2 separate regions of the Homo sapiens genome follow, and region 2 is linked to region 1. Evidence: fine-mapped expression QTL. A gene starts in region 1. The other region holds a variant in brackets. All regions are shown on one strand. Distances are from middle to middle.

Region 1 (5,381 bases):
CTGCTGTCATAACTAACAACAGCAAACTGGAGGCCAACATAATGAATTAAGTTAACATACAACCATAAAATTATATTGCAAACATATTTTTCTTTCATTCTTTTAGGTTAAAAAGGTGGATAATCATAAAGGCAATATTACAACTCTAATATTTCATCATTAAACTGAAAATAAAAGTATTTCCTAAAACAGAACTGAACCCTGGAGCAAAATCTGATTGAATTATAGGGAAACTTTTACCACGTTGTGAAAATTGAACTATTATACTGCTAGTTACACTCTCACTCCTAACAGAATAAGAAAAAAAAAATGGGCCGGGCATGGTGGGTCACACCTGTTATCCCAGCTCTTTGGTAGGCCGAGGCAGGTGGATCACCTGAGGTCAGGAGCTCAAGACCAGCCTGGCCAACATGGTGAAACCCCACCTCTACTAAAAATACAAAAAATTAGCCGGGTGTGGTGGTGGACACCTGTAATCCCAGCTACTCGGGAGGCTGAGGCAGGAGAATCTCTTGAACCCGGAGGTGGCAGAGGTTGCAATGAGCTGAGATGGCGCCACTGCACTCCAGCCTGGGCGACAGAGAGAGACTCTGCCTCAAGAAAAAAACAAACAAACAAACAAACAAAAAGAATAAGAAAGAAAATGAAGGACAAAGATCATACTGAATTGCTTAGTTTTAAATCCTACCAAAAGAAATAGCCTGGGAAATGAAATGTCACAGAGAAGTATAATCAGGAGAGCTGTACAATTATTTTACTAATACTTGAAGTCATCGTCTTTGGTGAGAAAAATCCATACATGCAAATGCAGCTGAAAAAAATCAGCTCAAAACCAATAGTTGTTTATGTACCTATCTTACGTACATGTAGTGCTGTCTACTCCAGAGAGTTACCAAACATTAGCCAGTCTTTTGAGGGAAGCCAAGATTCAAATTGAGTGAGACGGTGGCTTGCTCACAGGGTTCATGAGAGGTTTCCCAATACACTTTCTGGAAATAATCCCATACATGCAGACATGATTACATTAATTAACATCTGCTAAAACTGTTAGTAGAGTGCTAAGTTTGAGGTTTTGCTTTTTCTTTAAACGTCTGTTAAAAAATCAACCATCTCTTCCCTGATTGGTATTTAGAAAGGTGGTTGGTCCACTGCTATTGTAGTGAAAATTCTACAATCATAAAGCCCTCACTTCTTGTTTTTTAGAGACAGGGTCTCGTTTTGTCATCCAGGCTGGAATGCACTGGCAGGATCATAGCTCTCGGTAACTTCAAACTCTTGGGCTCAAATGACCCTCCTGCCTCAGCCTCCCAAGTAGCTAGGACTACAGGTGCACATCACCACGCCCGGCTAAGTTTTTAATTTTTTGTAGAGACAGGGTCTACGTTGCCCAGGTTGAGCTTGAACTCCTGGCTTCAAGTGATCCTCTTGCCTCCGCCTCCCAAAGCTCTGGCATTACAGGTGTAAGCCACCTTCTCCAACCTGGCTCTCAATACTTGTAACCATGCTGTTTATTTTCTCCCAGCCCAAAGAGAAGCAGGATCCTAAACCGTCCACTTTCCACAACAGGAGCTGCCCAGGACCACTTCAAGGACAGTGAACTGTTTACAGTACCAGAAAGTTCACAACACTTTCTCAATCTTCAACATCAGGGAAGACTGGAAGGTGAAGTTCATATCACTATCTGGCCATTTCTCACAGTTCCAAGTTTCTCAGACAATAGGTAGGCTAACCTAGTCCTCCTGGGAACTATCTAATTAACGTAGAATAGAACCCGAGGGCAGACTTGAAAAACAGAAGTCCTCCTTGGTTTACTTTGTTTCTCTGAAAGCAAATTGTGGAGTGCCAACATAGCCAAACAAAATATTTTATCAACTTCATAAGGTGCTTGTAATTTTTTCCTGGAGCAGGTAAATGCTGGCTTAGTGAACAATCTGGAATGTGGTAATTACTCTCGTTCTTGTTTCAGATGTACTATCAGCATGTAGCAGTTTCCAACTGATTCAGGGTTTTCCTAAAGTGGCAGGCCTTGGCAGAGGTGGTGACAACAATGCCCGTGTCAAATGACACCGTATTTCAAGTATTCTGACTCCAGGTTATTAATATCCCCTATATGATAGTCTTGTTTCTGTGATATTCACAGATTATGTTAAAAGTTTCCCAAAGTCTGAGAAAAATCATATCTTAACAGTATCTTTTTTTTTTTTGATCCTTTGTACAAAAGTAGAAGTAATGCCAGACAGATTACGTACCCTTGTTGTGAACAACTGGTGCATGGCAACTGTTTGAATAGAAATTTACCAACTGCCACAACCAGGCAACTACTCTCCCAGAGCCTAACAATCTCGATTGCATCTGAAAGGGCCACCCCTCCTGGGAAAGTGCAGGACCTCCCTCCTGTTTCTGAATACAAAGCCTGGTGGTGTTCAACGCGGCCAGATAGACCCAATGAGCACACGGACATGTAATCTGTGCACTTCTTTAGACAACTGATTACCATCAGTCAAGTGATGCCCAAGTCACAATAGTCACTTCCTTTAAGCAAGTCTGTGTCATCTCGGAGCTGTGAAGCAACCAGGTCATGTCCCACAGAATGGGGAGCACACCGACTTGCATTGCTGCCCTCATATGCAAGTCATCACCACTCTCTAGAAGCTTGGGCTGAAATTGTGCAGGCGTCTCCACACCCCCATCTCATCCCGCATGATCTCCTCGCCGGCAGGGACCGTCTCGGGTTCCTAGCGAACCCCGACTTGGTCCGCAGAAGCCGCGCGCCGCCCACCCTCCGGCCTTCCCCCAGGCGAGGCCTCTCAGTACCCGAGGCTCCCTTTTCTCGAGCCCGCAGCGGCAGCGCTCCCAGCGGGTCCCCGGGAAGGAGACAGCTCGGGTACTGAGGGCGGGAAAGCAAGGAAGAGGCCAGATCCCCATCCCTTGTCCCTGCGCCGCCGCCGCCGCCGCCGCCGCCGGGAAGCCCGGGGCCCGGATGCAGGCAATTCCACCAGTCGCTAGAGGCGAAAGCCCGACACCCAGCTTCGGTCAGAGAAATGAGAGGGAAAGTAAAAATGCGTCGAGCTCTGAGGAGAGCCCCCGCTTCTACCCGCGCCTCTTCCCGGCAGCCGAACCCCAAACAGCCACCCGCCAGGATGCCGCCTCCTCACTCACCCACTCGCCACCGCCTGCGCCTCCGCCGCCGCGGGCGCAGGCACCGCAACCGCAGCCCCGCCCCGGGCCCGCCCCCGGGCCCGCCCCGACCACGCCCCGGCCCCGGCCCCGGCCCCTAGCGCGCGACTCCTGAGTTCCAGAGCTTGCTACAGGCTGCGGTTGTTTCCCTCCTTGTTTTCTTCTGGTTAATCTTTATCAGGTCTTTTCTTGTTCACCCTCAGCGAGTACTGTGAGAGCAAGTAGTGGGGAGAGAGGGTGGGAAAAACAAAAACACACACCTCCTAAACCCACACCTGCTCTTGCTAGACCCCGCCCCCAAAAGAGAAGCAACCGGGCAGCAGGGACGGCTGACACACCAAGCGTCATCTTTTACGTGGGCGGAACTTGTCGCTGTTTGACGCACCTCTCTTTCCTAGCGGGACACCGTAGGTTACGTCTGTCTGTTTTCTATGTGCGATGACGTTTTCTCACGAGGCTAGCGAAATGGGGCGGGGCAACTTGTCCTGTTCTTTTATCTTAAGACCCGCTCTGGAGGAGCGTTGGCGCAATAGCGTGTGCGAACCTTAATAGGGGAGGCTGCTGGATCTGGAGAAAGTGAAGACGATTTCGTGGTTTTGAATGGTTTTGTTTGTGCTTGGTAGGCAGTGGGCGCTCAACACATAATTGGTGGATGAAATTTTGTTTTTACCGTAAGACACTGTTAAGTGCATTCAAAACTCCACTGCAAACCCTGGTAGGGGACAGCTCCGGCACTGCGGGCGGGAATCCCACGGTCCCCTGCAAAGTCATCGCAATTTTGCCTTTACATGTAAGAATTCTCTCAAGCATGATTTTCACACTGGGGAATGTCATTTTTGCTAGTTGCAATATGTGGATGAGTTGTTTTTTTTTAACTTTTGAAAAACGTACCATTCTGTTTGATGTGTAAAAAACACAAAGATTTTTGAAACCTTGCGTCTTTTGGTCTGCAGGTGTATAGATTCCACTTACTACAGATGAGTAGCATTTACACCACTCAGATGTGTAAAAAAACAAAGGTTTTTTAAACTGTGTGCCTTTTGATCTGCAAGTGTGAGATGGCACTTACTACAGTGAGTAGCATTTAATCTTTTTCATCACTAAAAATCACACAGAACGTTTTAATCATTCACCGAGGAAGAAAGGGAGGAATAAATACACAAAATGGCTCTCAACGTCTACACCTTCTGCAGAAACAGACCCTTTTCCTACTGTTCTATGCTTTGTGAAAGTTGATCATACAAATTGGGTCATTCTTTTTATACCCAACTAAAATAGTGGGGGTAGGGGGTAGAAAAGCACTTAGGACAAATGACACTGCTCCCACAGTGTAATTCTCTCCAAGTCCAGCTGCTGCAACTGCCCGTTGTGACCTGAGACCAGTTTTATCTAATAGTTGCTAAAATGACCTGCTGCAGCTCTAATTTTATCTACCACCATCACTCACCAGTTGAAACTCACCAGCTCCTCAGATCCTTAATAGTGCCAATGAATTTTCTCAAAGAGCACTATGTAACATTTCTCTTTTTTAACAAAACCTCCCCCTTTTCTTTGTTGTGTGGATATACCGAAGACCATCTGATCTACATGTATGCCCTAATTGCAATTCTTTCTTCCCAAATAAATCACTTAATTTAGAGATTCATCTCTGTATTTTTATTTTGACTGACAGCTTATAACAAGTAGCTAGCATTTACCAAGTTTCTACACTGAGTTGTACTTCACTTATACGTGGAATTAAAAAACAACTGAATTTATAGAAACAGAGTAGACCCTTGGTTGGGGGGCTTGGGGGGAAAGAAAATTGTAGGGTAGGGTACAAAGTTGCAGTTACGTCTAATACATCTAGAGATTTAATGTACAACATGAGGACTAGCGTTAATAATTGTGTTAGTCCATTCTTACACTGCTATAAAGAAATAACTGAAACTGGGTAATTTATAAAGAAAAGTTTAATGGCTCACAGTTCTGCAGGCTGTACAAGAAGCATGGCTGGATCAGCTTCTGGGCAGGCCATAGGGAACTTAAAATCATGATGGAAGGCATAGGGAGACCCCAGACTTCACATGGCAGGAACTGGGGGAAGAGAGAAATGGGAGGTGCTACATACGTTTAAACAACTAGATCTTGTCAGAACTCACTATATAGTACCAAGAGGGGACTGTACAAAACCATTAGAAGCCACCCCATAATCCACTCACCTC
Region 2 (5,381 bases), 25 kb after region 1:
ACAACAGCAATAGAATCAACCTAGGTGCCCATCAACAGTGGGATTGTATAAAGAAACCGTGGTACATATACACCATGAAATACTACATGTCCATAAAAATAATGAAATCATGTTCTTTGTAGGCCATTATCCTAAACAAATTAACACGAGAACAAAAAACGAAATACTGCATATTCTCAATTATAAGTGGGAGCTAAATATTGAATACACATTGACATAAACGTAGCAACGATAAACACTCAGGACGACTAGATGGGAGAGGGAAGCACGGGCTAAAAATTCACCTATTACGTACTATGTTTACCACCTGGGTGATGGGACCATCATCAGCATTATGCAATATACCCATGTAACAACCCCGCACATTTACCCTCTGAATCCAAAACAAAAAGAACAACAACAAAAATGCCTCTTCTACTATAATGTAAAATCTATGAAGGGAAGAATTTAAAAAACTTAAAATATTTAACATTATACAAGTCATATGTGTTATATATATTTAAATAGTCATATTCAACTTAGTATGTTTATTCATTATTGCCTGCTTCATCCCTATTGAATGTAGTCTTGACAGGAATTTCTATCCTTTTTGTCTGTGTAGTTCATCAACGTATCCTCAGTGCCCATATGCGGAGTGAACAATTCAGAGTAATCAAGGACAACTCCAGCATTCCTAGTCTGAAAACTGGAAGGTTGAATTCGCTGTTCATAGGCGACAGGAGGAGTGAAGAGAGAAAGAGGGAGGAGTGAAGAGAGAAAGGGAGAGGAGCGAAGAGAGAGAGAGGAGAGAAGAGCTGCAGCCCTTTGGCAGCCCAGACCTGGGAGCTCCCGAAGCTAGGGCTGTGATTTGCCTTTTGGAGCCCTGAGGTTCCTGGAGTCTCCAAGTTTCCAGGCACCAATGCGTTCCGTTGCTGCGCTGCTTGGTGCAGCCACAGCCTTGCAGTGAGCCAGCACCCGTGCCAGCACCTGAAGCTGCCCATCCCGCTGTAGCAGCCATTGAGCCTGACTGTGTGCCAGACCCCACGCTCACTTCCTCACACATCCCTCACCGCTTCGCTCCAGTCTCTTTGGAGGCATGGGATCCACGCCAGTAGTGTCAGCTGAGCGCAGCCTGCCAGGATGAGTGGGCCCAGTGGACCCGAGCAAAACTCATGCAAAGGTGCCACCGCCACAGAGGTTTCTGGACAGAAAAGCAACACCCCCAAGGATCCCATAACAGTATCAGTATTTTTCAGTCAGGAGGAAATTGCCTACTTCTTGTTGAGCAGTGTTGCTAAGGGTGTATTTAGGAGTTGTATCAGTTTCTAGGGCTGCTGTAATAAATTTACTACGAACTGTGGCTTCAAATAACAGCAATGTATCCTTTCACAGTTTTGCGGGCCAGAGCCCAAAAGCAAGGTGTTAGTAGGGCTGTGCTCCTTTAAAGGCTTTAGGGAAGAGTCCTTCCTTGCCTCTTCCAGCTTCTGGTGGCTGCTGGAAGTCCTTGGTTTCCTTGATTGGTGGCCACATCACTCCAATCTCTGCTGCTCCAAATCTCACATCACCTTCTCCTCTTCTGTTATGAGGATACTTGTCATTAAATGTAGGGCCCACCTATGTAATCCAGGATGATCTAATTTCAATATCTTTGACTTAATTACATGTGCAAAAACCCCTTTTCACAGCTTCCAGGGATTTGGACATGAACATTTTTAAGTGGGGGGCCATTATTTGACCCACTACAAGAGTTCAAAGCCTTCTCGGGAAATACCATCCCTTACCCACTGACATGAGTCTGTTCATGCTGGGAGTGGTAGAAGATACCAGGACCTGAATGCCTTTGTTCCCATCTTTAACAGACACCACCCAAATTCAGTAATGGAGCAAGTGAATTTAGCACGAGTACATTTAATCTTCACACATATGTTGCTGGGTGCTAGAATTTAAAACATTGTTTTCAGCGCCCCCATTCTGACTGGTTCCCAGGGATGTAAGTCTCCTCAACACCCTGGCCAAAGCCTTACCTATTCTCTGAACCCCGCTCTGTTTTGTGCTATGGGTGGGAGGAGGGCATTACTTATTGACCTCCCTGTCCTCAATAACCTGGGTAACCGGAGACAGAGGAATCGAGCACCTCTATCCCTAAACCATCATGTTGGAAATTCCTTACTGAAGCAAGTCATTCACAGTTGTGTCTTCCAAACAGTGCAATTTCATTTGTGTGTTAGGACAGCAACTCTAC[T/C]AGAAACTACTTCACATCAATAGAAACATCATTACAAAACAAGATCAATATTTCTGATTTTCATGCTTAGTGTTATTTTTTGAGAATGACCAGAAATTTTCATTTATATAGAGATATACTCTATTCTGATAATCAGAAAGAACAGATAATGACTTTGGAGAACATCAAGATTAAGGTTCCTAAGGTAAACATTTACTCCCTGGTCAATATAATATTAAAACCACTAGTACGTTTTACCTGAAAGAAAAATGAATCCATTTTTTTGGTCAACGAGTAATATAGGAAGTCCTATATCTGTTGCATTTATTTTTAAACTTCTTTTTAAGTATAAGAATACAGTACATATATGGAAAAGTATGCAGTTCATAGGTGCACAGCCTAGTCAATTATCACAAAGTAAACACATCTGTTTAATCACCATCCAGGTCAAGGAAAATACCATTGCCCACCTCACTGTCTTCAGGAAAGACCCCTGAGCCCCTTCTCTATCACTACCTTGTCCTTCTCACCAAAAGTAGCCGCTATCTTGATTGCTAAAAGGATTAATTTTGCCTGCTTTAGAATTTTATACTACATATATTCTTTAAGCTTTTAAAAGTCAAAATATCTGGAAACCACTCCTTTCATGATATTTCATCTCAGAGGTAGAATAATTATTTCTTTGTAGGTAACTCTCTGTCGGAAAGATGAATAGCTTACTCCATAAATCATTAGCATAAAAACTTATTTATAATTTACATGAGAAGTCAGTATGAAGAGTAACATTATGACCTTGTGGTCAACACAATCACACAAATGGAATTATTAAAAATAAAGATAAATGAACCATGGAATTTTCAATTCGTAATTTACCTGGTTCTCTCTGTTCCTGTCCTTCTCTCTTGATAGTAAGGTGACTTTAGCCTTTGGGACACAGTAACATTCTCTTGATTATTAAAAGTTTTTTTCTCTCTACCTGCTTGGTCTCTTGTTCATATGCAATTTTTCTCAACAAAAAGTGTTATTGTTTAGTAGTTAAAAAAAGAAATGACTTCAAAGTCAACAATATGTAGAAAGGCTTATATTTGGTGGCATATTTCAAAAATTATGAGTGACCTCAATTCTTATTAACACATGTAAGCATTATATTTACTCAATTCCAAGGAGAAATCAGGCGTAAGATGCAATGACAAAAGAAAAGGAAAGGCTGCATTGTATATAAAATCAGGTGTAGGTACAATCGAGTTTCACAAATGTTGAAATGTGAAGGGAAAAGTGCATCTTAGGATTTAGGAATAGTGCCATTTGCTGATGATATCAGCAGCGATATGGTCCAGAGGTGGCTTGATGTTATTATAATTTCCTCTAAAAATACAAAAAATAAAAATAAAAAGTTCAGGAAGTCATTTAGAAATTTACATTGATGTCCCTCAGCTGTCCCTAGAAGTAGGAACGAGTTACCCTTTAGACATAATGGGGACATTTGTGCGTGCTGTCATTTTAGGAGTTCTACAAAGCCCCACTTTCCCTCAAATGTTTATTGTCTACCATTCCTTTCTACTATCTTAAAAATCCCATCAAAACAAAACAAATAAAAGATAACTATGTGAGATGATGAATATGTTAATTTGCTTCACTACAGTTACCTTTTCACTATCTATATCCATCTTATAACATCACGTTGTATACCTTAAAAATACGCAGTAAAATTTATTTTTTAAAAAAGAATCCCATCTTTTTTTTTTTTTTTTTTTTTTTTTTTTGGATGGGGTCTCACTTTGTCACCCAGGCTGGAGTGCAGTGGAGCGATCTCCGCTCACTGCAAACTCCACCTCCTGGGTTCAAGCGAAGAATCCCATCTTTTGAATTAGTCCTTTGAACACTATTTGTACAAGATGTCTGGAAAAGGCAACTGGCTCCTGAATTTCTCCTCTAGCTTTCTCTTACTTCATTTGCATGGCTTAATTGTATATGTTAGCTAATTGTCATTATTAAAAGCACAGATCCTGACCTTAAGGGAATGAAGTGCTGGACAGATACCTCTTAATTTCCGCAACTGCAATCTCAGTTTACTGAGAATGGAAAACTCCCTCCAAGGCCTGAGAATTCTTGGTTAACACGGAGGGCATTTCCCAAGAGTGTAGAAGAGGAAGCCCAACAGGCTGAGTAAGCTATTTCTTCACCTTGTATATTTAAGTTAGAGTACTACCTCTTTTGTGTGAACTTTAGGGAGTGGTCAGTAAATGCCACTTATTTCAAATTGTTTCACTTTGGCTTGCTGGAAAGTAGATGTATTTTAGAGCAAGGTCATTTGGTATATTTGTAAAAATATACCAGACTTTCTTGATTATTTTCTTTAAATTAAGCTTACTTTTTGAAATATTATTTATTTTAAAGTAAGATTTTATATAAGTTCTCTAAATAGAATACCACTATCACTTCCCATAAATAGAAGATAAACCCATTTCCCGTTTTGGGAAATCGCTTAGAAGAATGAATTTGGAATTTGGAATCAGAAGACCGGAGTAGTCATCTCAGCTCTGCTACTTCTGTGTTTTCTGGTTCTGGGAAAATCACTTGACTTCTCTGAGTCCCAGTCTCTTCATAAAAAAAAAAAAAAAAAAAAAAAAGGGACGGGATAACAATGTCTTCTTTCTTTCTCAAAATGACATTAACTAAATCAAGCTGCAAAGGGAAATATGTGGTTCTTTTTATTTGTAAGCTTAAAGTCCAAGCAGTTATGACAAATGGGTTTCACCTGAAGTGCAAATGCCCATTTATTCCTAGTGGTTCCTGGACCCCTTTATTGAGAAGGGTTGTGATGACCTGCCCCAAGCAAGGGGGGAAGAAGGCTGCTACTGCATAGTTCACGCTACTTAACTCCTGCCTCCTCTTTACCGAGCCCTCTTAGCTCACCAGAATCTGCATCTCAGAAGCCACCTCCCATTCAGCATGAACTTCCTTTTTATAAGAGCCCCCAAAAGTCACCTCAGGTAAATCACACTCATGAAATCTCTTTTCAGCCTAAAACTGTCTCCTAAAATGAAGCCCTCCCAGGCCCTTCTAATTCTGTCACCACTTTCTCACTCCTCCAAAATAAACTGCTTTTCAGTCCAAGGAATTCTTTAGAGAGAGAAGAAGAAACAAGGATCTGCCCGTGTAATTCTGTTGTTCTATCACT

Evidence for each region. PIP is the estimated chance that this variant, and not a neighbour inherited with it, causes the effect.
Region 2: its variant is fine-mapped to the expression of C9orf72 in whole blood (TOPMed, PIP above 0.99).

The regions. Positions count from the first base shown.
Region 1 is chr9:27,570,272-27,575,652 of GRCh38, forward strand. It overlaps C9orf72 (C9orf72-SMCR8 complex subunit), which reads right to left and starts at 3,210. Exons shown (of 11, transcript NM_018325.5): 1 at 3,160-3,210. RefSeq lists enhancers at 2,604-2,693, 3,292-3,819 and a silencer at 3,204-3,283.
Region 2 is chr9:27,594,946-27,600,326 of GRCh38, forward strand. No RefSeq gene overlaps it. Among named protein-coding and RNA genes, the nearest start is that of C9orf72, 24 kb to the left of the region's middle. The variant T/C (reference allele first, on the strand shown) is at 2,222.